Homo sapiens: one gene and its partners. The protein of the gene in region 1 binds, or shares a complex with, the protein of each later gene. Links are inferred from orthologs where the notes say so. Each region holds a gene or a part of one and is shown on either strand. Other genes may lie near its edges. The genes, in order: DDN, MAGI2 and WWC1.

What was found.
Region 2: the proteins of DDN (region 1) and MAGI2 are in contact, whole or in part, in a crystal structure (PDB 6KKG), measured with the Mus musculus proteins. The link is inferred for Homo sapiens from one-to-one orthologs. Residues at the interface, in NP_001013763.1 of Mus musculus: Asp222, Arg223, Pro224, Pro225, Pro226, Tyr227, Val228, Ala229, Pro230, Pro231, Ser232, Tyr233, His237, Arg238, Thr239, Leu240, Gly241; in NP_001164217.1 of Mus musculus: Glu308, Met309, Ala310, Tyr311, Thr312, Glu313, Gly315, Tyr318, Ile320, Asp321, His322, Lys325, Thr326, Thr327, Ser328, Trp329, Asp358, Tyr361, Tyr364, Val366, Asp367, His368, Arg371, Arg372, Thr373, Gln374, Phe375.
Region 3: the proteins of DDN (region 1) and WWC1 are in contact, whole or in part, in a crystal structure (PDB 6J69), measured with the Mus musculus proteins. The link is inferred for Homo sapiens from one-to-one orthologs. Residues at the interface, in NP_001013763.1 of Mus musculus: Tyr227, Val228, Ala229, Pro230, Pro231, Ser232, Tyr233, His237, Arg238, Thr239; in NP_740749.1 of Mus musculus: Glu13, Glu14, Ala15, Arg16, Asp17, Tyr23, Ile25, Asp26, His27, Arg30, Thr31, Thr32, Ser33, Trp34.

What each region holds. Positions count from the first base shown.
Region 1 is NC_000012.12:48,996,376-49,004,104, reverse strand, and holds the start of DDN (dendrin), read left to right. Parts: upstream 1-4,729; 5' UTR 4,730-4,817; coding exon 4,818-5,026; intron 5,027-5,414; exon of another isoform or gene 5,415-5,438; coding exon 5,439-7,365; 3' UTR 7,366-7,729. Other genes in the region: PRKAG1 (5'-AMP-activated protein kinase subunit gamma-1), read left to right, coding at 183-348, 510-547, 815-961, 1,099-1,206. UniProt on the Homo sapiens protein: Promotes apoptosis of kidney glomerular podocytes. Podocytes are highly specialized cells essential to the ultrafiltration of blood, resulting in the extraction of urine and the retention of protein.
Region 2 is NC_000007.14:79,450,282-79,458,658, forward strand, and holds the start of MAGI2 (membrane-associated guanylate kinase, WW and PDZ domain-containing protein 2), read right to left. Parts: upstream 3,387-8,377; 5' UTR 3,040-3,386; coding exon 2,739-3,039; exon of another isoform or gene 2,676-2,738; intron 1-2,675. UniProt on the Homo sapiens protein: Seems to act as a scaffold molecule at synaptic junctions by assembling neurotransmitter receptors and cell adhesion proteins. Plays a role in nerve growth factor (NGF)-induced recruitment of RAPGEF2 to late endosomes and neurite outgrowth.
Region 3 is NC_000005.10:168,287,067-168,294,939, forward strand, and holds the start of WWC1 (protein KIBRA), read left to right. Parts: upstream 1-4,578; 5' UTR 4,579-5,086; coding exon 5,087-5,205; intron 5,206-5,639; exon of another isoform or gene 5,640-7,873. UniProt on the Homo sapiens protein: Regulator of the Hippo signaling pathway, also known as the Salvador-Warts-Hippo (SWH) pathway.

The DNA of each region.
Region 1 (7,729 bases):
TTGCCCAGGCTGGTCTCGAACTCCTGGGCTCAAGCAATATGTCCCCCTCAGCCTCCCAAAGTGCTGGGATTATAGGCATAAGCCGGCGCACCCAGCCCTTATTTCTAATATACTGGGTTGGAGGGGGTATCCAAGGGTGGCTTTGGGTGCCTTGAAAGTTAAGCTGATGGTTCTTTCCTCAGATCACTGAGTTCCCCAAGCCAGAGTTCATGTCCAAGTCTCTGGAAGAGCTACAGATTGGCACCTATGCCAATATTGCTATGGTTCGCACTACCACCCCCGTCTATGTGGCTCTGGGGATTTTTGTACAGCATCGAGTCTCAGCCCTGCCAGTGGTGGATGAGAAGGGTGAGAGATTGGGCAGAAGGAGAGGGAGGGAAGATCCAGGCAAGTCAGGGTGGCTCTGGGAAGATCTGCTTTCCCCTCAGCTTAGCCAGGAGGGTGATTCTATGAGTAGGGGGAGCTTTAGATCCCAGATCCTCCTTACTGAGCTGCCTCTGTCCCCCTAGGGCGTGTGGTGGACATCTACTCCAAGTTTGATGTTATCGTGAGTGATTGTGGAGGGTCTGGGAGGTAGGGAAGTGGTGGGGGGGGGGCACTGTTAAATATGGAGAGGGAGAAGGGAGTCTCTTCTGTGATCTAAGGGTCTTAGAAGCTTCCAGGCTTTCAAATCCTATTTGAAAAGGAATTGAATGAGTTGGGTGTGGCTTGTGGCTGACAATTGCCCTGAATCCCTCTGTTGAGGTTGGATGGGTTCAGGGTTTGGAGGCTGGCTCTCTTGCTTCCCTGCAAGCTCCTTCCTCTGTCTCCCCAGAATCTGGCAGCAGAAAAGACCTACAACAACCTAGATGTATCTGTGACTAAAGCCTTGCAACATCGATCACATTACTTTGAGGGTGTTCTCAAGTGCTACCTGCATGAGACTCTGGAGACCATCATCAACAGGCTAGTGGAAGCAGAGGTAGGGAGGCCAGCAACCCTAAAGGAGCTGAGGGGAGCAGCCTTGAGAGTGGGGTTTGGCAAGGAGAGTAGGGGCAGAGGGGCTTCCCCTGAGGCCAGCACTAAACATTCCCTTTCTCCCTTGTTGCTCTGTGCCAGGTTCACCGACTTGTAGTGGTGGATGAAAATGATGTGGTCAAGGGAATTGTATCACTGTCTGACATCCTGCAGGCCCTGGTGCTCACAGGTGGAGAGAAGAAGCCCTGAGCTGGGGGAAGGGGTCATGCAGCACCAGGGGATATGCCCAACTCACTGCCTGCTGGAAGCTCTGTGGGAATCAGATGAAACTTGAGGGAATTGTGACTCTGTTCCCTGTTCAGGGTCCCCTGCCCTTCTATCTGGGAGCTAGGGAAGGTATGGGGGAGGAAAGAGAATGGATTTATAGCTACCCTTACCCTCACACATACACTTGAAAAAACTTTCAGCCTAGCCAGTTCTAGCCCCTGTCCTCTTAGATATATCCCCCTTTCTGGGTGAACTATAGGCTCTGTGCCTCTCAGACAAATTCTGATCTCTAAGAGATCCCCAGACCTCACTTGCCTCTGCCTCCATCTTGGCCCTGATTCAACCCTAAGATAATAGCACAACAAAATTCTTCATAAAGATATTTTTATTCACCTGTTCCGTGCTATATGGAGGAGGCCAAGTCCATTTAGTGACATTTCTTCCCATAATGTGAGTGGGGAGGATTGTGGGGAGGAGGGGCTTTGGGTTCCTGTGTTTGTGCATATGAAGGGAGATGGGGGTTAGGTGGAGGAGGAGAGCAGCGTGGTTAGCTAAGGTTATTGCTTTTTGTGGCAAATCTAATTAAATGACAGGAATCTCTTCACGATATTGCAGTGTTTGATTTTTACAGTTGATGGGTACTACCTTCCTACTTTATATGGCTTCTTCAACTGGTCATTAACAATAATAATAACGTGTGTACGCACACACACACGTACACACACACGAGTAGACAGACTTGAGGGTCTCCTTTGGGCAGAGAATCCTGCCACCATTATCAGCTTTTCTTAGTTGGGGAAGGTTGGACTGTTTGGCTTTTGCTGAGTTGGCACTATCTTTTTTTTTTTTTTTTTTTTTTTTTTTGAGATGGAATCTCACTCTGTTGCCCAGGTTGGAGTGCAATGGCGCAATCTCAGCTCACTGCAACCTCCGTCTCCCGGGTTCAAGTGATTCTCCTGCCTCAGCCTCCTGAGTAGCTGGGACTACAGGCGCGCGCCACCACGCCCAGCTAATTTTTGTATTTTTTAGTAAAGACGGAGTTTCACCCATATTGGCCAGGCTGGTCTCGAACTCCTGACCTTGTGATCTACCTGCCTCAGCCTCCCAAAGTGCTGGGATTACAGGCATGAGCCACCGCACCCGGCCAGCACTATCTTTAAACCTACAAATCCCTTGCCTCTTCCAAGGTGAGAATGAGCTGGATGGTGGGAGAACAGCAGGGCAGTGGTCACTCCATCAGATCCATTCCCTGTATTGAAAGCATGTAGACCCAAACAGCAGTCAGCACCCAACATCAGAAGAACTGCTAGACTGGAGTATGAGCTAAATTTGGGTGCCAGCTCACCCCAGCCTTGCAGGTATGATACAGTTTCCCATCCAAGCCAGGAGCAATTTCGGAGTCATTCCTTGCCCCTGCCCCACAGTGCCTAACCCCTCTGATAACCCTCCAGCCAGGGCATACTGGGTTCTCCTGATGGAACACAGGGAAAAGCATCAAGGCCCTCATCAGATTCGACCTGAGGAAGCTTATTTTAAAAAAAGAAGGTGGCCCTCATCAGAGCTCAGCTTTCAGTGTTGCATCATGGCTGTGGAGGAGCCCCTGCTTCTGCCTTCACCCCTTTACAGCTCTCACAGCACATTCTCAACCTTGGGGGAGGAAGGCTTCCAAGTTATTAGAATTAGAGTATGTTTATGTGTCAGGAGGGTAAGCACATGGTGGAAAGGACAGATGGCCCCTTATGTCACATTCCCTCATTAAGGAAGATTTGCCTAGGGAGGAGGCAAGGGCTTTAAAAAGCCTCAGGACTCTAGTGGGACCTAGGGTGGAAGGAAGCATCTTCGAGTCAAGTCATCAGTGCAGCTGGCAGGTGTGTGGAATCAAGGGGGGTAGGGTGGATGGGACGGGATGTTTGCGTTCTCTCTAAAGGTTTGTGTTAGGGAGCAGAGACCTGGTTTTGTTGAGTTGTTTCTCAGTCTGTCAGTCTCTGCCCCACAACCTTTCTGGTTGTTCCCCATCCCCTTAAAAGGAAGGGTCTGGACCCAAAGGGCTCCATGTACATTAGTGGAAAACTAATTGGGAACTCTTGCTTCTCCCATTTCCCTCTAAAACCCAACCTATCCGTCTCAGTGTGAGGATGAAGCTGAGGGAGAGACAAGGGATGAAATTTGGGAGACTCACAAGCTTCTATTCTTACCTATTCCTCTCCAGAGAGGCAAATTATCCCTTCTTCCCGAGGAACCATGCCCCACACACTCTCCCCTCTCTCTGCACTGCTCCCCTCCACTGAAGCTGCTGCCATGGTTGCCAGGCATGGTTGCTAAGTCTCTGCATGGAAGGGTTGGCGTGGGCTGTGCTGCCACTAACATTACCATGGTGAATCAGGGGACACCTGGTATAAGCTTAGGAGGAGGGATCATGTGGATATAAGCAACAGCCCCCCAGGACAGAGGCAGCCCAAAAGGTGAGCATCTGGAGCACCACTTAAGGTGGGGACTGAGTGAACTAGGCATTGTGGTGGTGGTGAGGGGGAGTTCTACATTGAAAAAAATAAAGGCCACTTTTATCATTTCAGTTGCTAGGGGATTAGTTTTGCCAAGCAAACACATCATTTCTCCTCCATCCCCCTCTGGAAGGGTGAGAGTGCATAAGCACTTACTCTGTCCTCCATAAAGCTGGGCAGGCTGTGTGGGCACAGAACAATATAACCCCCAAATCCTGGCTTCTGGATTGGAGGTGAAAGCCTGCTGCTGTGGGAGGGCTCCCTGGCTGCCCAAGGACAAACATGTAGAATGGAACTGGTAGGGCAGCTTGGGTGGCCAAGGCAGACGCCTGTGTCCTGCTGTACCAGCAGTCCTAGGCTGCAGCACTGAGCTGACAAGGAGATACGGGTGTAGGGGTCACCCTTTTTGAGCTTAGGGAAGGCAGCTCTCCCTCAGAGTCGCACAAAAGCTTGGTAAAAGCCACCGCCTCCTCTCTCCACCGCATGGGAGCTGGTTACTCATCTCATCTCTGCACCCGAACAGCCACTGCCGCTAAAAATAGCCCCCCAGCCGTGGGCCAGCCCCTCCTGCACCCCAGCCCCATGGAAACCAGCAGAGTGGCAGGCAGAGACCTTGAGTTCCAATCTCATCACTCTATGTTGGGGAAACTGAAATCTGAGGCAGGAAGCCAGGGGCAGAACCCTGGTGGTCAGGCAACCTGACAAGCAGGAGAGTAAAGGGTTAAAACGGCAGGAAGGTTGAAGAAATAGGGGCGGGGGAGGGGGCACTGTCAGCTTGGCAAGAATCATAAGTCCCTCCCCCGCCCACTCGTGCGATCCCATCAGGCTTGGGGGACAACAGCAGTGGGAAGGGGCGTCCAATCCCGGGCCCCAGGGGGCGGCCGTGCACATGGGGGAGGTAGCAGCGCGGAGCAGTCCGCGCGGTGTCACATGCGCGCGCACACACAGAGACAGGCACACACACGTGTGCCCGGGTATATATAGTTCCCAGTCCCCGGGCCCGCGGCTCTGCAGTGGGCGCCGGCTCCCTGGGCTGGGAGGGGGCTCCTGGGGCGGGTGGGAGGGTGGGGGGCCGGGGTGGGGTGGGGCAGGATGCTGGATGGCCCACTGTTCTCCGAGGGGCCTGACAGCCCCCGGGAGCTCCAGGATGAGGAGTCTGGCAGCTGCCTCTGGGTGCAGAAGTCCAAGCTATTGGTGATAGAAGTGAAGACTATTTCCTGTCATTATAGTCGCCGCGCCCCTTCTCGACAGCCCATGGACTTCCAGGCCAGCCACTGGGCTCGCGGGTTCCAGAACCGCACGTGAGTGAAGCAGGGGTGAGGGGAAGAGAGTGGTGGGGCGGGGAGTGGGGTCCGGACCTCCCCGCAGGCACCAGCGAGCACTGCTGGTCCCCCTTCTCTTTCCCACGCCTTCCACCTCTGCCCGCTCCCGAGGGCTGGGGCCTGACTCATCCCGTTGTTTGGGGGAACAGAAGTGGGTGTGAGAAAGGGCAGGAGGTGAGATGGGGCAGACGCTGTTAAAGTGTGCATGGAGAGATGGCGAGGAGTCCCGCTTCGACTTCAGTCCTAACATATACGCACGTGCACACGCGCACACACTCACACACACCCCTTCACATGGCTGCCCCAAGTGGTCTCCAGTGCTCCCAGCTCCCCGGACCTCGGCTCCCTTCCCCCACAAACTGCTCACCTGGGTTCCTGCTCATTGTCCCAGGTGTGGGCCGCGCCCGGGATCCCCACAGCCGCCGCCCCGCCGGCCCTGGGCCTCCAGGGTGCTGCAGGAGGCGACCAACTGGCGGGCGGGGCCCCTGGCCGAGGTCCGAGCTCGGGAGCAAGAGAAAAGGAAAGCGGCGTCGCAGGAGCGGGAGGCCAAGGAGACCGAGCGAAAAAGGCGCAAGGCTGGTGGGGCCCGACGGAGCCCCCCGGGTCGACCCCGCCCGGAGCCCCGCAACGCCCCTCGGGTGGCCCAGCTGGCAGGGCTCCCTGCTCCCTTGCGGCCGGAGCGCCTGGCGCCTGTGGGGCGAGCGCCCCGTCCATCCGCGCAGCCGCAGAGCGACCCAGGGTCGGCGTGGGCGGGGCCCTGGGGAGGTCGGCGGCCCGGGCCCCCAAGCTACGAGGCTCACCTGCTGCTGAGAGGTTCTGCCGGGACCGCCCCACGACGCCGCTGGGACCGGCCGCCACCCTACGTGGCTCCACCTTCTTACGAAGGCCCCCATAGGACCTTGGGGACTAAGAGAGGCCCCGGGAACTCTCAGGTGCCCACTTCATCAGCCCCAGCTGCGACTCCAGCCAGGACAGACGGAGGGCGCACAAAGAAGAGGCTGGATCCTCGGATCTACCGGGACGTCCTCGGGGCTTGGGGTCTCCGACAGGGGCAAGGTCTCTTGGGGGGATCCCCAGGCTGTGGAGCGGCCAGAGCAAGGCCAGAGCCCGGCAAGGGGGTCGTGGAGAAAAGCCTGGGGCTGGCTGCTGCTGACCTGAACAGTGGTAGCGACAGCCATCCCCAAGCCAAAGCTACAGGGAGCGCAGGCACCGAGATAGCTCCTGCGGGGTCTGCAACTGCGGCTCCCTGTGCCCCGCATCCCGCTCCCAGATCCAGGCACCACCTCAAGGGCTCGAGGGAAGGGAAAGAAGGAGAACAGATCTGGTTTCCCAAATGCTGGATTCCCTCCCCTAAAAAGCAGCCGCCCCGCCATAGCCAGACACTCCCCAGACCCTGGGCTCCCGGAGGCACCGGATGGAGAGAATCTCTGGGTCTTGGAGAGGGGGCAGGACCGGAGACCCTGGAGGGTTGGAAGGCGACCCGCCGTGCCCACACCTTGCCCCGCAGTTCCCAGGGCCTGTCCCGTGGGGAAGGCGTCTTTGTCATTGACGCCACGTGCGTAGTGATACGATCCCAATATGTTCCAACCCCCCGAACCCAGCAGGTGCAGCTTTTGCCCTCTGGGGTGACACGCGTGGTGGGGGATTCCCCCAGCCAATCGAAGCCCGGCAAGGAGGAGGGTGAAGGGGCCACGGTCTTTCCTTCCCCTTGTCAAAAGCGGCTGTCGAGCAGTCGCCTTTTACACCAGCCCGGCGGGGGCCGCGGGGGCGAAGCTGAGGGCGGGAGGCCGGGGGACTCCACACTGGAGGAGCGCACTTTCCGCATCTTGGGGCTCCCGGCCCCCGAAGTAAACCTGCGGGACGCCCCCACGCAGCCAGGTAGCCCAGAGCACCAAGCCTTAGGCCCAGCAGCTTCGGGAGCCCAGGGCAGAGCCGAGGGGTCGGAAGTGGCGGTGGTCCAGCGGCGCGCCGGCCGGGGCTGGGCGCGGACCCCAGGGCCCTACGCCGGGGCCCTGCGAGAAGCCGTGTCCCGTATCCGCCGCCACACAGCCCCTGACTCGGACACGGACGAAGCTGAGGAGCTCAGCGTCCATAGCGGCTCCTCTGATGGAAGCGACACAGAAGCCCCGGGCGCCTCCTGGCGGAATGAGAGGACCCTGCCCGAGGTTGGAAACAGTTCGCCAGAGGAAGATGGGAAGACAGCGGAACTGAGCGACAGTGTCGGGGAGATCCTAGATGTCATAAGCCAAACCGAGGAGGTCCTCTTCGGGGTGAGGGACATCAGAGGGACCCAACAGGGAAATAGGAAGAGGCAGTGAGAGGCCCCTTCTTGTATTTGTGTCCCCAACGCATCCATCCTTGGGTCCACTGGTCCCCATTCTTCCCCACAGACTTCCTTTGCTTCTCTTTTCCTTGTATCTTTACCCATACCTGTTCTCATCCTTGAAATATAAATGAAAGGAAGGGAAGCATATGCCCATTAATGATTTTGTTTCAGGAGAGGTGAGAATGAGCAGATTTAATTAATGTCTGTTATGTTCAGGGCACAAGGGTGAGCTCTTCGCAGGGGCTGATGCACTGGGTGTGGAGCTGAGCAGAGAGGCCTAACCAGGATCAGGCAGGAGGGCAGGGATGGTGGCAGCCATAGGAGGGCAGGGTAGGGTAGGGCCTCTGAGGAGGAGG
Region 2 (8,377 bases), on another chromosome or scaffold:
TAAATGACATCTGTATTGAAACCTAAGACACACAGGCACTATAGTAAAGGTTCTGAAAAATTTCATTTTTTATAATCATAAATAAAATTAATCTATGATTTGACGAGGAAAAGAATTATTAGAATAGCAACATGAATCATATTTAAAAGAATATACAAGAGAATTAATTATTCCACAAAAGGTAAAAGAAATATTTTGTTTTGTTTTGTTTTTGGTCAGCAGTGGTTCAGGAGATGAACCAACTGTGGGCTCTCTGGCTATCATTATACAAATTTATCATCAATGAACCAGTGAAGCACGAAACTGAGGGTTAATATAGAATGAAAAGAGACTTTCCCCTCAATATATCACTTTAGAAGCATATATTCTGAGTTCTAAAAGCAATAATCTTCCACATAAAATTCAATACAAGAGTGATCTCCAACCACATTAGATCAAATTATGGCAAGATTCAAATAATATCTAATCCAGGTCCTCATCTTATATAGGAATCCCTGGCATATGGTCATTTCAGCCTCTTCATGGATACCCACAATGATGGGAACTTCAGCCAACAGGGTGCTCACAAATTTTTGGAAAACTCTGTTAGAAAGCTCATGATTTAATGAAAGTAAAGCTGCTTCATCCTTTCAAATTTCTCATAGATTTATCACCATTTTGTCCTGTGGGCTATCACAGGATAGTCAGAATTCCTTTTCTTACCTGATAGCTTTTCGCTATTTAATGATAGCTTTCATTCTTTCACTTCTCCACGTTAAGTCTTTCCACGGCATTTCATAGAATACATCTATAATACACAATAATCTTCCTTTATTTCTCTTTTGAACTTACTCTTTGCTAGCGTGACAGTTTGCCAACGTCCGCCTCAACAAGGAGTGCTCAGAATTGAACACAACATTTAAGATGTGATGATCATTGCAAACTATAATAGGGCATCCGTTTGTGGGACTCTATTAAGTCCAATTTAACAACGCTTAACTTTTGCAGCCACGTTCCATGACAAATATCAAGCATTTGGCCAACAAAACCATGGTCATTAGTTGTGTAGTAGACTTTTCGTACCCAAAGATCTTTCCATTTATGTCTATTCCTATAAGGTGGTATTTTGACATCGAACATGTTAACATGAATCTCTGTATTTGAACCTTAGGTATCTTATCTTCAAAAATATCAAGTTACTCTATTTTCCTTCCTACCAAACTCATATCCCTTCAGTGTTAAATAGTATGGAGCTATGTTGACTTATAATAACCTATCTCAATTTATTACCTCTTAATACTCAAGAATACCCAAGGAAAACATTTTCTTGTATGGCAATTTACATTTAAGAAACCTTGCCCAGTACTTCTTTTTATCTTGTTTATTTTAAAACAAGTTTTTTAGAGAATAATTTAACAGTGCGGTACATCTCCGTAAAAGCATTTCTTAGTAGTTGATCATGATTAAGCGGCAAAATGCAGGTAATGACATGCTCAATTCCACCTTTGAGTCAGGACAAACAGTGTACATCGACGACAACAACAAACCCTTATGCTAATATGCCTGTGACGCAAATATCCATACATACCGCACACGAATTGTGCAGTGAGCTAAAAAAGAAAACAGAAAAGAAAAAAGCTACTACTTTATTCTACTTAAAGTTGTCCTCTATTCAAACTTTTATCTCACTCTTCTCTCCTTCTGCACCATAATTTTCTTTCGAGCAAAGACAGGGAGTTCTGGATGATTCCAATCTCCCCAAATCCACATCACAGCCTCCAATTGAGGTTCATTTAAGTCAGGTTGGAGCTGAGGGAGCCTGGGCTGGAACCGGCCAGGGTTTCATCCAGCTCCTCCCCCAAAACACGCCCCCCAAATCGGAGCCAGAGGAGAGCCCAACCACAGAGGACTTCCACTCAATGAGGGCAACCCCTGAGTAAAGTCCATGCGGACAACCATTCATCTCCTCCGACAACCATTCATCTCCTCCGACCCCCGCCCAGCACTAGACTGCGCTCCTAGCACCGCGCCTTCTTCCGGAGCCTCCTCCCCCGGGCTGGCTAGGGGTGAGCGCAGGGGTTAGTCAGTACGCACGTGACGCGCGATGCCCACATGACACGACCGTGAGCGGGGGAGGGGGACACGGAGTGAAGAAGGGGAAAAGTTACAGAAGACCCGTCAAAGCGCCCAAAGCAATTTGTCCCTTCTTTTCTTCGCCAGCGGTGGCTCACGGATCCCTAAGGGACAGCTGGGGACCCAGGCGCCCCCAGCCCAGCCCCAGAAACGCTGGACGCAGTTCTCCGCTCACCCCACCACCTTCTCTTCCCAGACCCGCTGGTGATGCCGCTGCACCCTGAAGTTGCTCCTTCCTTCTTTCCCTCCCTTCCTCCCATTCTTTCTTTCTTTTCTTCCTTCCTCCCTTCCCCAAAAGCTCTTCATCCGCTTCGGGTGATGCCACTGACGCACATTCAATTTGCCCCAGCAGCTCTGAGGAGGTCAGACCAGGCCGAGCACCTTCCAAAGGGGAGGGTCTAACTGAGCAAACAAAGTTGCACGCCACACCACAACCTGCCCCTCCCCTCCCTTTAGCCCCCAAGTCGAATCCCCGGCGAAACTCACTTGCACTGCGGGTGCTCTCTGGCCCCCACCCCATCATCGCGCAACACACCCCCTTCAACATGCGCGGCCACCCTTTCATTGCCCTGCGCCCCGAGCGGTCCCACCGCCCGGCAAAACACTGAGCAAGCCGCTGCTCTCACCTTGCTTGACACACTTGAGCCGGAGGGGGTCCTTGCAGTGTTTGATCACGGCCAGCACGTCCCTGATGGTGAGCCCCGCCACGGGGGTCTCGTTCACCTCCAGCAGCAGCTCCTCCGACACCAATTTGCTGCCGCTCTCATAGGCCACCTTGCCGGGCTTCACCTCCCCCAGGTAGGGGAACTGTCCATTCTCGGCGCCCCCCTTCAGTTCAAAGCCCAGCTGGCCCTCCGGGTTCCTGCCAATGACACTCTCATGGACTTTGCTAGTCCAGTGGCTTTTCTTTTTCAAGCTTTTGGACATGGCAGTGGGGCGAGTCGCCTCAGTTCCTGGGCTCCTTGGGGTTAGGGGGGCTGGTGGTGAGAGAATGAGGATGGAGGAGCAAGGGGGCCCAGGGGGAAGAACAGCAGACTTTGCCTTCGCCCCCCTCTATTCGGTGCTTTCCCTCTTCTTTGGATGGAGTGTGGACGAGGAATGGGGAGGATGAGAGGGACGGCTGGGCAGAGGTAGGAGAGCTTGGATGAGGTTGTGCTGTCCCTTGAATGACACTCAAGGCTGTGGCCCCGCAGCAGAGGAAGCAGTGGTGGTGGCGTCGGCGGCGGCGGCGGCGGCAGCCGGAGCGAGCAGTAGCCGAGCTGGTGAGCGGGTGTGGTGGGGGTGGGGAAGGAGGGTAGGGATGCCGGGGGCCACTCCTGCGTGGTGCGAGTGGGAACGCGCGCGCGCGCCTGGGTGTGTGTTGTTAGCTGATATCCATGGCAGCTGCAGTGGCAGGGTGCGTGTGCGTGTGTGTGTGTGTGTGTGTGTGTACTAGTTCTACTGTACTGGCAGACGGGAGGAGGCAGGGGAGGAGGGGCGCGCGCGCCGGGTGGGGAGCCACGGAGGGCTTCGCCGCTGCCTCCCTCCCTCCCTCCGCAGCTTGACCCGGTAGTGAAGGCAGAGAGAGAGGCAGGCTGGGTCCGCCTGGCAGCCTACGGGAGGAGGCGGGAGCCGGGAAGGAGGGGAGCCTAGGCCCGGCGTGGGGAGGCCGGCAGGAAGGGCCTCGAGCCCAGTGCGGACCTTTCTTCAGCCTCTGTGCGACCGAGCCGCGCGCCAGGCTCCTGTGCGAGGAGGACGCGCTGACTCCCTCCGACCTGGGCTCCGATGGAGCAGAAATAGCGGGACCTGGACTTGTGGCGCGCCTGGTGCCACATCTCGGGCTCTGCGAGCGTCCTGGCGCGGGATCCTGCCGTGAGAAGGAGTTGGGGCGGGGGACCCGGCGGGGCATTGCGGGAGAAGGCCTGGGATCCCTGGGAGCCTTGTAGCGTGGGGGAGTTCACTGTGTAGAGAGGTTTCATGTCTTCATCTATATAGTCACTTATTTGTCTTAAAGTTCTCGAAATTCCCTCTTAGAGAAGGAGAAAGTTAGAGAACTGGAGGCTGCGTACCCTGATTACGCAGAAGGGAAGCAGCCTCGCATTCCCCGGGGCAGGCCCCCGCCCGCGCGTCCCGCCAGTAGGGGAATTTAGCGGACGGCTGCGGTTGTCTGGTGAAAGGCTATCCAAGGATAAGGGGCTTCACTTTTCCCAAGTAGGGGAAAGAGAAGGGGTCTACAGGGCTAGGGGTGGAGGGAGCGGATGCAGTGAGCAGCCTCCGCAGAGAAATTGACAATTTAACCAGGGACCTGCGGCAGAGACAAGGCGGAGACACTCCCTTGCCCAGGAAAGCCGCCAGAGTCCGGCTTGTACCTGGGGAAGAATCCTTAAGACGGTCTGGCCCAACACTCCTTTGCTCACAGAGAAAGGGGAGAAGACTCCCGAGGGTGAAAATGGTACATTCGGAGCTGGAACTCAGCTCGCTGACCCCAAGCAGTGTTCCCTTCTTTTCGCCAGGTTTGCATCCAAGAGAGGGGAGGACAGGGGCAAAAGGATGCAGGGAGGCTGCTGATTTCCACTGAAGAGCTAATTTCCTGTGAGACATTAACAGTGATTTAAGAAAAAGATTCCTGTAACTGGTAAATGAATTTCATTTGCTTAACTTTTAGATGATATGTTTCAGGCAAAAAAAAAGTTGTGCACCCACTTATCTCTTTAAAGCGGAGGATGAAAAGCATTGAATAGGTAGGATTCTTAATGTCTGAGATGAAGGCGATGTAGGAGGCAAACAATACGGTTAAAAATGTTGAGTCGACCCAAACAGAAAGACCAGGTTTCAATCCAGACTCTGCGGCTTACTGAGAATATGATCTTGAGTAAACTGCTTGACCTTCCTGAGCCTCAGCTTTCTTAGTTGTTAAATGGACTTTAACAATACTAATCTGTTAGGACTGTGGTGAGGATGAAATCAGGGAAATCAGTCACAGCAGTGCTCTCCTGGCACAGGTGAGTAGGAGTTCGAAATGATAATTCCCTCCTCTTTCCCTCTTAGGTATAACTTACTACTTGGGGATGAGGGGGATCAAATGTAGTCAGAACTGGAAGAGATCTTAAAAAAAGATGATTTGTTTAACCTTGTGTCTTTTTTTCACTTGAGAAAACAGATCCTCCGTAAGTTGGCTGCACTAGTTGAAGCTTATTCAGTGAGCCAGGGGCAGTGCCAGGATCTGAAGCCAGAGCTGCAGGCAATGCCCAGGAGTAGGCAAGACTTGATAGCAAAGCCTAATCTCACCCAGAGAAGTTGAGTGTTAGCATTATGAGGCATAGTTCTAAATGGAAACTCATCATGAGAACCGAATATATACATATTGTAAAACCAAATGACAAGCTACCATTCATGGAATATACTAATATTTATTAGGTTCTAACTACATGCAAGATGTTGTTTTATAGGCTTTACACATAATACTTAATTTCTCCTGACATTTTGATAAAATAGGTACTGTTATCTCCTTTTACAGGTAAGGAAACTGAGGTATACAAGGATGAACTTTTGCAAGGCTACAAATCTTGTTAATAGTGAAGCTAACGTTCAGACCCAAGTGGTTCGGCTCTAGACTTTGTCTCAGTTACTGAATTGAACTCTCTGTGCACTTACGATGTGTCATACCAGTTCTCACTACATAGTGTCCCAAAAGATTGGGCCTGCTCTTTCTTTCAGAGACAATTAGGAAAAAAGTAAACAAACGGAGCAGGATTTGGGCATAACAGCATGCTCCTCCCATCCCCCAAATCCCAGGAGTGTCACTGAGGTCAGTGCCAGTTAACTTAGTGCTCTTCAACTTCACAGCTACCCTTCTTTGCCCTAAATTGTGACATTAGAGCTGAAATCTGTAAACGTCTTTATGGTCAGTTGGCACAGTGTTTAGCTTTGTCAATAGAAGGTGCTAGGGGAACACTGCAGAAAGAAAGGGGCTCCTTTTCTTGGTTCCAGTGCTTTCCTGCTTGCTCCTACGGTGTGGTGGCCAGTGAGTGACTTTCTGACCAGTGGTGTGCAAGAAGGCCATGTTACATAATCTTCAGTAAATTTGGCCAGTTCCCTAGTATGTGTCTTTCTATGGAGTACCACTGGCATGTCAGTGGAATGGCTTCCTAGCAAGTTTTACTGAAAACACAGCTGATGGTTTCCTCAGCAGCCCAGTGTGTGACACCTTAAATTTCTGGATCATTAAGTGGACCACAGCCATATTATTTCCAATGAGCGCCTACTTTCAGGCTTAGTAGGGTGGAGGGTGGGTAGGGGGAAGTTCTACTCAGTTATTCCCTCCTTGGGTACTCTCCTAGAGCCTGAGAGATAGTGGCTGTTCCCAATAACCACTATTACTGTATTCTTTAGTGGGATTTTTTCCTGTCCTAATAGTCAATACCCTTTGACTGGATCTTAACTGATAAAAGTGGAACCCTGAGGAAAGCACTATCCTTGGAGTCAGAAATTGGGATCAGATTTTTTTTCTTTCTCTTATGGTATTCCTCATATTCGCTTAATTTCTCCACTGCCTTTACCCTTTTTGGATTTGATGCTATGTCAAGAAAAAATTATTTCATCACTGAGCACTCTGAGTGTAGAGCAGAGTGCTAAATATTGCATGCTATTCCAGAAGAAAAATAGTTTAGGAATCCTAAAAGCCAAAGAAAGAAAGATATGAATGCATTCAGTTCTTAGAAGAGTTCTATGAGATAGATGCTTGTGGCAGACATAGTCTCCACCCAGATCTCCTAGGATCCCTTTGGTTGAATCTGAGTATCCTTCCTCTAGCTTCTGTGTTCTTTTACTTCTCACAGCCTGCCCCGAGAATCTCTTTGGAGGAAGGCCCAAACACTACTAGACTCACTTTGTGTACTGGCATAGAGAGCCAGACAGAACCACCTGCAAGTTTACTTCTTTCCCAGGATACCCTTTGCCAAGGACTTTCCTATAGAGTATAAAAGACCAGCCGTCTTGCCTCTAGTAGCAAGAAAACCTGAGGTGTAATTTACACCCTGAGGCTCCCCTATAGAATTATATTGATGTTAATATTTTGCCTGAAACCACCTTCTTCCCTATCTTGCTTACTGTGGTACCTGATGAGTTTTTCTTGGTAGCATTTCTATAATAAATCACTTGCAGACAATCTTCATCTCAGGGTTTGATCCTGGGGATCCTGACTTAAGACATTGCTATTCTTTTTTTTTTTTCTTTTACAGATGAGGAAACTGAGGATCAGGGCTTTTAAATTGCCCCAAATCACACTACTAATAAGAGATAGAGTTGTGGTACCTTTTTTAGAGGGACCATTATTCTGCTGACTGCAGTACTGTAGAGCATAAAGTTTCTTATCCACACTGTTTCTTAGTTCAGTCTGTCAATATCACTACTCCACGATTATTGTTGTTTGTTTTTCTTTCTCCCTGTCTTTTACCTCAAAAATCTCTATTGTGATGCCAGAGAGACCTTTCTGAAACCTCTCCTTTTTTCTGTGTTTAAAACCCCCCAGTGCCGCCCATGAAATACACAGCAAAGTCCAAACTCCTTATCTTGCTTGGATCCTCCTTTCCACCCTTTTTAACTGTTCAGCCATATTTCTCCATGTACTTCTGAGATTGGAACCCAGGGCAACAAAGCTAATGTGGGTTCTCCAAGATTAACACAACTGAAAGGAGGCCCCTTTATGCCATCTATTCTAGGTCCCTTGGAATATAATTAAAAACAGGAATTTCAACATTGAAATGTAATGATGTTCAGGTAAGGGCAGTAAGGTACATTGACTTGAGTCAATCTCCCACCATGTCTGGGGACTGGGACAGCTGAGCCAGGGGTCCTACCTAAGGGTCAGGCCTGTGTCTTCACTTCTCCTTTCAACCCTTTACTTCTTCCAGAGTTGAACGGCTTACTTTCCTTCTCTCACTAGGCCATTTCATGGCTTGTGTTTGCCTGAAATACAACTCTTTCCCTCCCTGGTCTACACCTGCTCACCCTGAAAGAAATACCTCTGAGCCCACTTTCTTTCTTGGAAGCATTTTATGACTCTTATTTCTGTTATCAACACAGCTTTTATTTATGTCTCCATGTATCCTTTGAAGAAACACAACTTTTCAGGTTCTATGTTTTATTTGCATTCTTAGTGTCTGGCACATTGTCTGACACAGTGTAAAAGCTGAGTAGAATTTTGCCTGATAGCAGATGTGCCTGAAGTGAGGGTGTCCAAAATTTCATTAAATGACGACTGCTTTAATATGAATTCTTGGCTAAG
Region 3 (7,873 bases), on another chromosome or scaffold:
ATAAATAAATAAATAAATAAATAAAAAGAACCAGCAAGGAAACAAGTGGGGAGGAAAGACAGGCAACAAAGGGAGAAAAGTACCCCTCTTCCCACAGAGACCGCTGAGCCTGTGAAATCCCCTACACCAATCCCCTTGGGGGGTCTTGTGGACAGCACTGGGCAGGCAATGGGGGATCAGGGCACTATCTCCTCCTCTTAGAATTGAGAACCCCACCTCAACTCTGCCCTCTCATTGTCAGCTCAGCTGTGACCAGTTTTAGCATGCCCTCATCAACCTCCATGGCCTCCTCCATCCACTCCAAATAGACGCACAACCCAAACATAAGTAGGAGTTTAAGGAGAGTCTCCTGGCCACCCCACCTCCTTTCCCAACCAGACCATGGCCCTGAAATCTCTCCTTCACAGGCACTCTAAAGCCCACACTGGGAGTCCAGAAGCAAAAACTCACTAGAAGCAGCTAAGTTGATATCTACATGACTACAGAAAAGTCACTTTGCCTCTCTGAATCTCAGTTTGCTCATCTATGAAATGGAACCAGCAGGAACTAGGGCAGTAAATCATTATTCACACAAACTCCATTTCTCTGTTTGTAAAATGAGTAGGCTGTGCAAGACTTGTTTCAGTTGATTTCCCAGCACTGAATTAAGCACGGAGGACCGAGAGGTAAATAAAAAACCATCTCTTCTGCCTCGGCTCTCGTGTTACCAAGGTTTCTTCCACCCTCATTTTCTCTGGCTTAGGACGTGTTTTCCCATCATTGGAAAAAAAGAGTCCACAGTACATTTATGAACCTCAAATAATGCATGACTCAAGAAAGGGGACATTATTGGCTCCATCATAGAACATAACTGTGCATTCCCCAGGATGTGTGGGAGGGACGGCATGAGGTAGGGAGGTAGAGTCATGGAGCAGGAAGCAAAATCTCAGCAGAGGTTCTCAAAGCCTCAGTTTCCCCTGAAGAATGCAGATGCGAACAGGAAACTGGACTTGCTAACATATCTGTTCCTTTGTTTTATATTTAATTTCTCCTCTTTACCATCTTCATGGAATATGTGACTCTGGCTCTCTGAAACACTCTAAAACACGTGTGGATAACGGCCTTTCTTCCCTGCAGTTGCAGTGGAGAAAAGGGTTCAAGTGCGCATCGTTTTTAAAAACAAGACAGCCTGTCTCAGGCTCAGGTGATTCCTCTGGGCCACCGGGATGTGGCCTTTGTCATTAGAAAGGCTTGGCCTGTGGTCACTTCTGCACTGCCCAACACTGCCCAAGCCTGTCTCCTTCAACTCCACACGCGGGCAGCCAGACGCAGCCCCAGGAGGGTGGCCAGGAGAGGGCTGGGCTTCTTGTCTTCAGTTCGGATTCCTGCAGTTCAGTCACCTGTAGAGTAACGTCCAATTCAGCCTATCATGTGGCTGAGCCGGTTTTACCTTTAATCTCTTTCACGTTTGCCCTCAGCCTCGCAGAATGTCCGGGATGATTCACGCGCCATCACATGGGGCAGGCAGTCATCTGTTTTATTACCTCACCCTGCTTGCCGCTTCTGCGAGATAACCTGGGATTCTTTCGTTGGGGGTGGATGGGAGGTAAAAAGAGCGAACAGACCTAGGCCTTAATTCAGGAGTCAATTCCTGCTCTGGTCTCTCTTTCTTGCTTCCCAGGCCAGGTCAAAAGGTCCAAAGAAGCAAGCCATTTGGAAAATGCCAGGGTTTGGGTGGCTGGACTAAAACGAAAGTGGGACTTGGCAGTCTAAAAGGTGTTTTCTCTTCACAATCAATGCCAACCAGTAAAAAGGCTTGGTTGAAAAATAAGGCCAAAAAAAAAAAAATCAGCAATTAGGAGGACTGTTGCAAGCAAGCAGGCATAATTTTCAGAAGGGGAAAGGACGTGGATTTGTGTTTTGAACAGAAAATACTTCAAATGGTCCACATTTCATAGAGGTGTGTCTGCTGCCAGGCACGGTGCTCCGAATGCACCGCACCACAGCCCCTGAGATGAAGGCGTGCTGCTGAGTGCCAAGCCCTCACATTTCTCCTCCTGCTTTGCCCTAACCACAAGCCCAAAGGAGTCCATATTGTTATGTGATTTTTTTTCAAATCAAAGACTGAGACTTCAGTGAAGCAAGCTGCCCAAGGTCACACAGCTAGAAAACCGGGTGGGCTTGGGACCCAAACAGCCTGATTCTAGAGCTCTTGCTTCTCAACCAAAAAACTATGAAGCAAACATCAACAGAGATGAACATTTGTCAGTATCAGTCATGTTCCACATCCCAACCATGGGGAAGTTCTGAGGCTGCAGAGTGATTTAAAAAAGAAAGAAAGTCTCCAATCTGGGTGACAGAGCGAGACTCCGTCTCAAAAATAAAAAGAAAGAAAGAAAGAAAGTCAGCCAGGCAAGGTGGCTCATGTCTGTAAGCCCAGCACTTTGGGAGGCTGAGGTGGGCGGATCACCTGAGGTCAGGAGTTCGAGACCAGCCTGGCCAATATGGTGAAACTCCAGCTCTACTGAAAAATACAAAAATTAGCTGGGCGTGGTGGCGCAGGCCTGTAATCCCAGCTACTCTGGAAGCTGAGGCAGGAGAATTGCTTGAATCTGGGAGGCAGAGGTTGTAGTGAGCCGAGATCATGCCACTGCACTCCAGCCTGGGGGATGGGGGGAGACTCCATCTCAAAAAAAGAAAAAAAGAAAGTATAGGTTAATAACTGAGAACACTGCACTAGAGTCAGACCTAGTCTGTCTTATGAGCTCTGTATCCCAGGCCAACAACAAAGCATCTTGGAGCCTCATCTGTAAAATGGGTATAATAAATAGACTTTCCTATGCCAGAGGGTTGTTATGAAGATTGAGATCATGTATTCAAAGAACCTAGCACCAGGTTGGCTTTGCTTTGGGGCTACTGCTCTAATCAATAGTGGGTTTTTATGTAGTAAAGGCTTGACCCAAACAGAGGAAGTGTAGAGGGCTGTGGGAATTCCCCCATAAAGGAATGGGGAATTCCAACTTTTGGGTGTTGAGGGCCAGTCTGAGGCTGGTGTCCCTGGACTCTGGTGCCTGGTATTTATGGAATGAAGGAGGGCCAAGCACTGAGCCCCGAGGCCTGGCCTCAGGGAAGGAATTAACTATGAAGAAGGCATTTGGAGGCGAGGCTCACTCTGGTGGGTCTTTTCTGTCAAGAGGAGATGAGACCACAAACATGATTCCCTCTCTGGCTCAGCAACACCCTGGTCCATACAGCACAGGGTGCTGGTTCTTCTGGAAGACCGTGGGGCTCAGGCAAGAGAAGACACCCAACTGGGCTTCATTCGACCAGTCCAGCTTCCTGCCATATGCCGAGGGCAAAAAAGGGTTAAATTCCCACTCAGTACACAGATGTAAGAGGAGATGGGGAAGTGAACAGCCAGTTGATCATTCACTCAATCATGCTAGCTTGCTTTTTGTATTTAATGCTACATTTTAAATTTATTTATTTATTTATTTGAGACAGAGTCTCGCTTTGTTGCCCAGGCTGGAGTGCAGTGGTGCGATCTTGGCTCACTGCAACCTCCACCTCCCAGGTTGAAGTGATTCTCATGCCTCAGCCTCCCGAGTAGCTGGGACTACGGGCGTGCACCACCACGCCCAGCTAATTTATTATTATTATTTTTTAGTAGAGATGGGGTTCACTATGTTGGCCAGGCTGGTCTGAAATCCTGACCTCAGGTAATCTGTCTGCCTCACCCTCCCAAAGTGCTGGGATTACAGGCGTGAGCCACCGCACCCACTAATTCTACATTTTTAATTTCTCAAGAAACATTGTGTCTCTGATTGTTTTATTCTCTTGAACATTTTTCAAGATGGAATTTTGCTTTGCTTACTTTCTTCTTTTTCATAGCCCCACTTCTCCCAAATCCATAACACACCTACCTCAAAGTATCACAGGAAAGAAAGCCTGTGAAGCTGCTAGCCACAGCCTGTCACAAGTAAGTCCTCAATTTAGCTAACAATAACAATGGCATTACTATTACTTTTACAAAGTGTTTTCCCTGACACCCTCTGGAAGTCCTCCCAGGAAAGCGGATCCACAGCGCTCCTAATTTTAGGGACCCTGAGGGGAGCCAGCTACATTTCCAAATGGTGGGGAAGGGTGGAGGGTGGGCGAAACGTCGTAGGGAGAGTTGAATAGAAGGAGACAGATGGTGCCTGTGTTGGGGGAAGGGACCAGAGATCCTGGAAAACTTATGTTTCCCAATTCGCAAGAATGTTTCCATTTAACCACTTCTTGCCTGACTCCTGATTCTACACCACAGAAAAGCAGGGAGTTTTTAAGATTTGGGGCCACCTGTGCCGAGAGCCTGGCTACTCCGGGTGGAGAGAGACAGGAGCGTTTTAAGTACAGGCAGAGCGGTTTTTGGCCCAGCCCCCTAGGTCTGGGACGCAGGTGAGGGGCGGTCTCTCCTTCCCCTGGCAGGGGCAGCGTAAGGGTGGCCGGCGGCTGGGACTGTCCCACGAGGGGGCGCGTCTCGGGCCCTAGGACCCGCCCTCGAGGCGCTGCGCGCGGGGAGGGGACCCGGGAACCCAGGCGCCCGGCGCTCCGCCTCCCGTTTCCGGGGCAGCGCGGTTACCTGCACCGCCCGAGCCGCACCTGGCGGAGGCAGAAGTCACAAACCCGGCGAGCTCAGAGCGGTGGAGCGGAGAGGAGGGACGGCACCCGGCTGCAGGGAGGAGGGAGGCGGCAGCGGCAGCGGCGGCGTGGAGGGCGCAGCGCGCCGCGCGGCGGAGGAGGGCAGACGGCGGCGGCGGCGGCGCTCGGCTCGCTCTGCCCGGCCGGCTGGGCGCGCACCCGGGCTCGCACCGCGCCGCTGCGGACGCACATGGCAGCGTGAGAGGCCGGCGGCGGGAGGAGCGGGCGGCGCCGGGTCGGGGCTGCAGGGCCGCATGGACAGCGGCGCCACCCCGGCCGGCCCCTACTAGGGCCCCCCATCTGCGGGCGCCACCCCCCGGATCATGGTGCCTCGGCGGCCGCCCGGGCTAAGAGCGGCCGGCTGGAGCCGCTGAGCCCCCGCTGCGGCCGGGAGCTGCATGGGGGAGCGCCGGCAGCGCTTGGGAAGATGCCCCGGCCGGAGCTGCCCCTGCCGGAGGGCTGGGAGGAGGCGCGCGACTTCGACGGCAAGGTCTACTACATAGACCACACGAACCGCACCACCAGCTGGATCGACCCGCGGGACAGGTAGGACCCTGGAACCCTCCTCCGTGCCCCCACACCCCCGCCTGGGCCCCCACCTGCCCCTGGAGCCGCCGGCCGGGACTGGGAGGGGGCAGGGGAGCTCTGCGTGCCTCTTGAGCTCTCTTCAGTTCGCCACCCCCTGCTCCCCCCAACCTTCTGGAGCGCTGCTCCCGCCTCAGTGGGCCACCGAGAGGAGGCGCCTGCCGGGGAGCTGGCCCAGGCTGCCCCACCGCCATCCCCAGTTGGAGGACTTAGGCCCCAGCCGGCACCTGCCCGGAGTTTTGACCTTAAGCTCTAGCCCCGCCCGCCCCCTTTAGGAAGAGAGGTCGGGCGGGGGCGGGGGTTGGGGGAGCGACCTAGCCGGGTGAAGCCGGGTCTTCCCGGGGAGGCTTCCACCCAGCGTGGGGGGTGGGCGGATGGGGATGGGGAAGTGTCCGGTTAGAGGGGGTGGTCAAGACCCCAGGATTCCGTGGGAGACCACTGGAGAGAGGGCACTCGGCGCAGAGGAAGGCAACCTGAGGTGTGCTTTTTGACAGGTGCCTTGGAAGCTGCTGAGAACAGCACAGGGGCAGCCAGGGGGCCCTGGAACCCGAGGGTGGGGAGGAAGTGAAGAAGCGGGGGAGGGCAGATGAGGGAGACTGGTTATCCAGGAATCTGGCAGCAACTTGGAAGCTGTTAGGATGGAGATGGAGGTGAGAGGCCTCCCGGAAAGCCTTGCCCCTCGCCTCTTTCTCCTCTCTTTCTTCCCTGATCGGGGAAGGGGGCGGCGAGGCTCCTCAGCCCTGCACCAGCGGGACCTGACCTTGGTGGGTACCAGGCCGCTGTAGGTTGAGATAATGTGCAGAGGCAGATGGAGCCTGAGATAGCTCGGTGTGGCTCTTACCTCTCCAGACTTTCTCCTGGTTGTTTGGCATTTCTTTGCTCACATGCTGCACACACACACATACATTCACCCTCTCCATGTATGTCCTAGAGTCCCCGGACCACGATGTTGTTGACACGGTCTGTGGGCAGAGTGTCTTGGGGAATGCGGACTTTAAACCTTGTCTGTGACCTTGGGGGTCAGGTCCCTGTAAAGCAACCAAGGTGAATTTCTTGGACTCTTCATCTTGTGTGGTGGGGGTGGAGGTGTCCCAGAAGTGTATGTAGCAAGATGTGGGTCAAAAAAAGAATATAAGCGGAAAGAAAATGAGAGTTGAGATTCTCGGTAGTTTCTGGGAGCACTTACTTTCATTCATTCATTCATTCGTTCATTCAGCGCTTCCTGGATGCCTCCTCTACACTCAGCACCATGCTGAATGTCTCATGAATGTAATCTGGAAGGTAAATATTTAGTGCTAGAGAGCATCTCTTAGGCAAGCTGCTTCAACCTCTGAGCCTCAGTTTCCCTGTTTGTCAGATGGGGGAGCCCACCATTTCCCTGAATTTAAAAAGTTTGCTTGGAAGGGAATATTGGGATGCTTAAAACTTGGAAGGGACGTACATCAGCGCCCAACTCCCATTTGAAACATAAGAGAAAATTTGAAGCCCAGAGGTGTGATTTGCTCAAGTATTTTGATTTTTCTGCCATTCTGCGTACCAGTTCTTCACCAGCTCTGAAGTTCTAACCTGCAAACTTGTCACCCTGACACACTGCTTCCCCACCCTTACTCGGGTCAGTTGCCAGCTCTGCTACTGTGTTGGTGAACTTGGCAGCACCTTTTCTCTTGTCCTTTTCTCAGAACAGACACAAGTTCAAACATATGTGACCTGCCCCAATTTAGGTCCCTGTAGTTTACGGAGGCCTGTGTGCTGTTAGCAGGTGGACGTCCTGTTGGAGGGAAAGGACCGCCCCTGCCAACACTGATAATCATGCATCTGGGGACTTCTAATACAGCAATAGGAGGCCCCTCTCAACAGTAATTCTTTACCCTTGGAAAAGGGTAAGTAAGTAGCTTCTATGAAGAACTGATTGGCTGGAGCACAATCTCCCAAATTTTAGTGTTACATGGACCACCTCCATGATTTTTTTTTGCTATATCCACCTGTGCTATTGCTTACTTACTCCTTGACTTTAGATCAACTCACTTTAAAAATATGTGTACCATTTTCACAAATGGGAAACTAGTTATATCTATTGTCATACAGGGGAAACAAAAAAGATAGGCAAACAAAAAAAACAAAAAACCAGGGTTAGTATATTTTAGCTAGGTACTGTGGCCAGCCTAAGGCCACAGCACCTCACCTGCCCAGCCTTTGTTTTTAAGCAGATTGGCAAGCCATGGAGAGGCGGCAGAAACATAGTGGCACTTAGGTGAGCAGCTCACCTTCTTCATCTTGTGTCATTGGTTTTTTTGTTTGCTTTTGGTTTTTTTGTTTATTTGTTTTTGTTTTTTGGAGACAGAGTCTCGCTCTGTCGCCCAGGCTGGAGTCCAGTGGTGCGATCTTGGCTCACTGCAAGTCTGCCTCCTGGGTTCAAGCGATTCTCCTGCCTCAACCTCCCGAGTAGCTGGGACTACAGGTGCACGCCACCACATCCAGCCAATTTTTTGTATTTTAGTAGAGATGGGGTTTCACTGTGTTGCCCAGGCTAGTCTTGAACTCCTGAGCTCAGGCAATCCGCCCACCTCAGCCTCCCAAAGTGCTAGGATTACAGGCGTGAGCCACCACGCTTGGCCTTGGGTCACTGGTT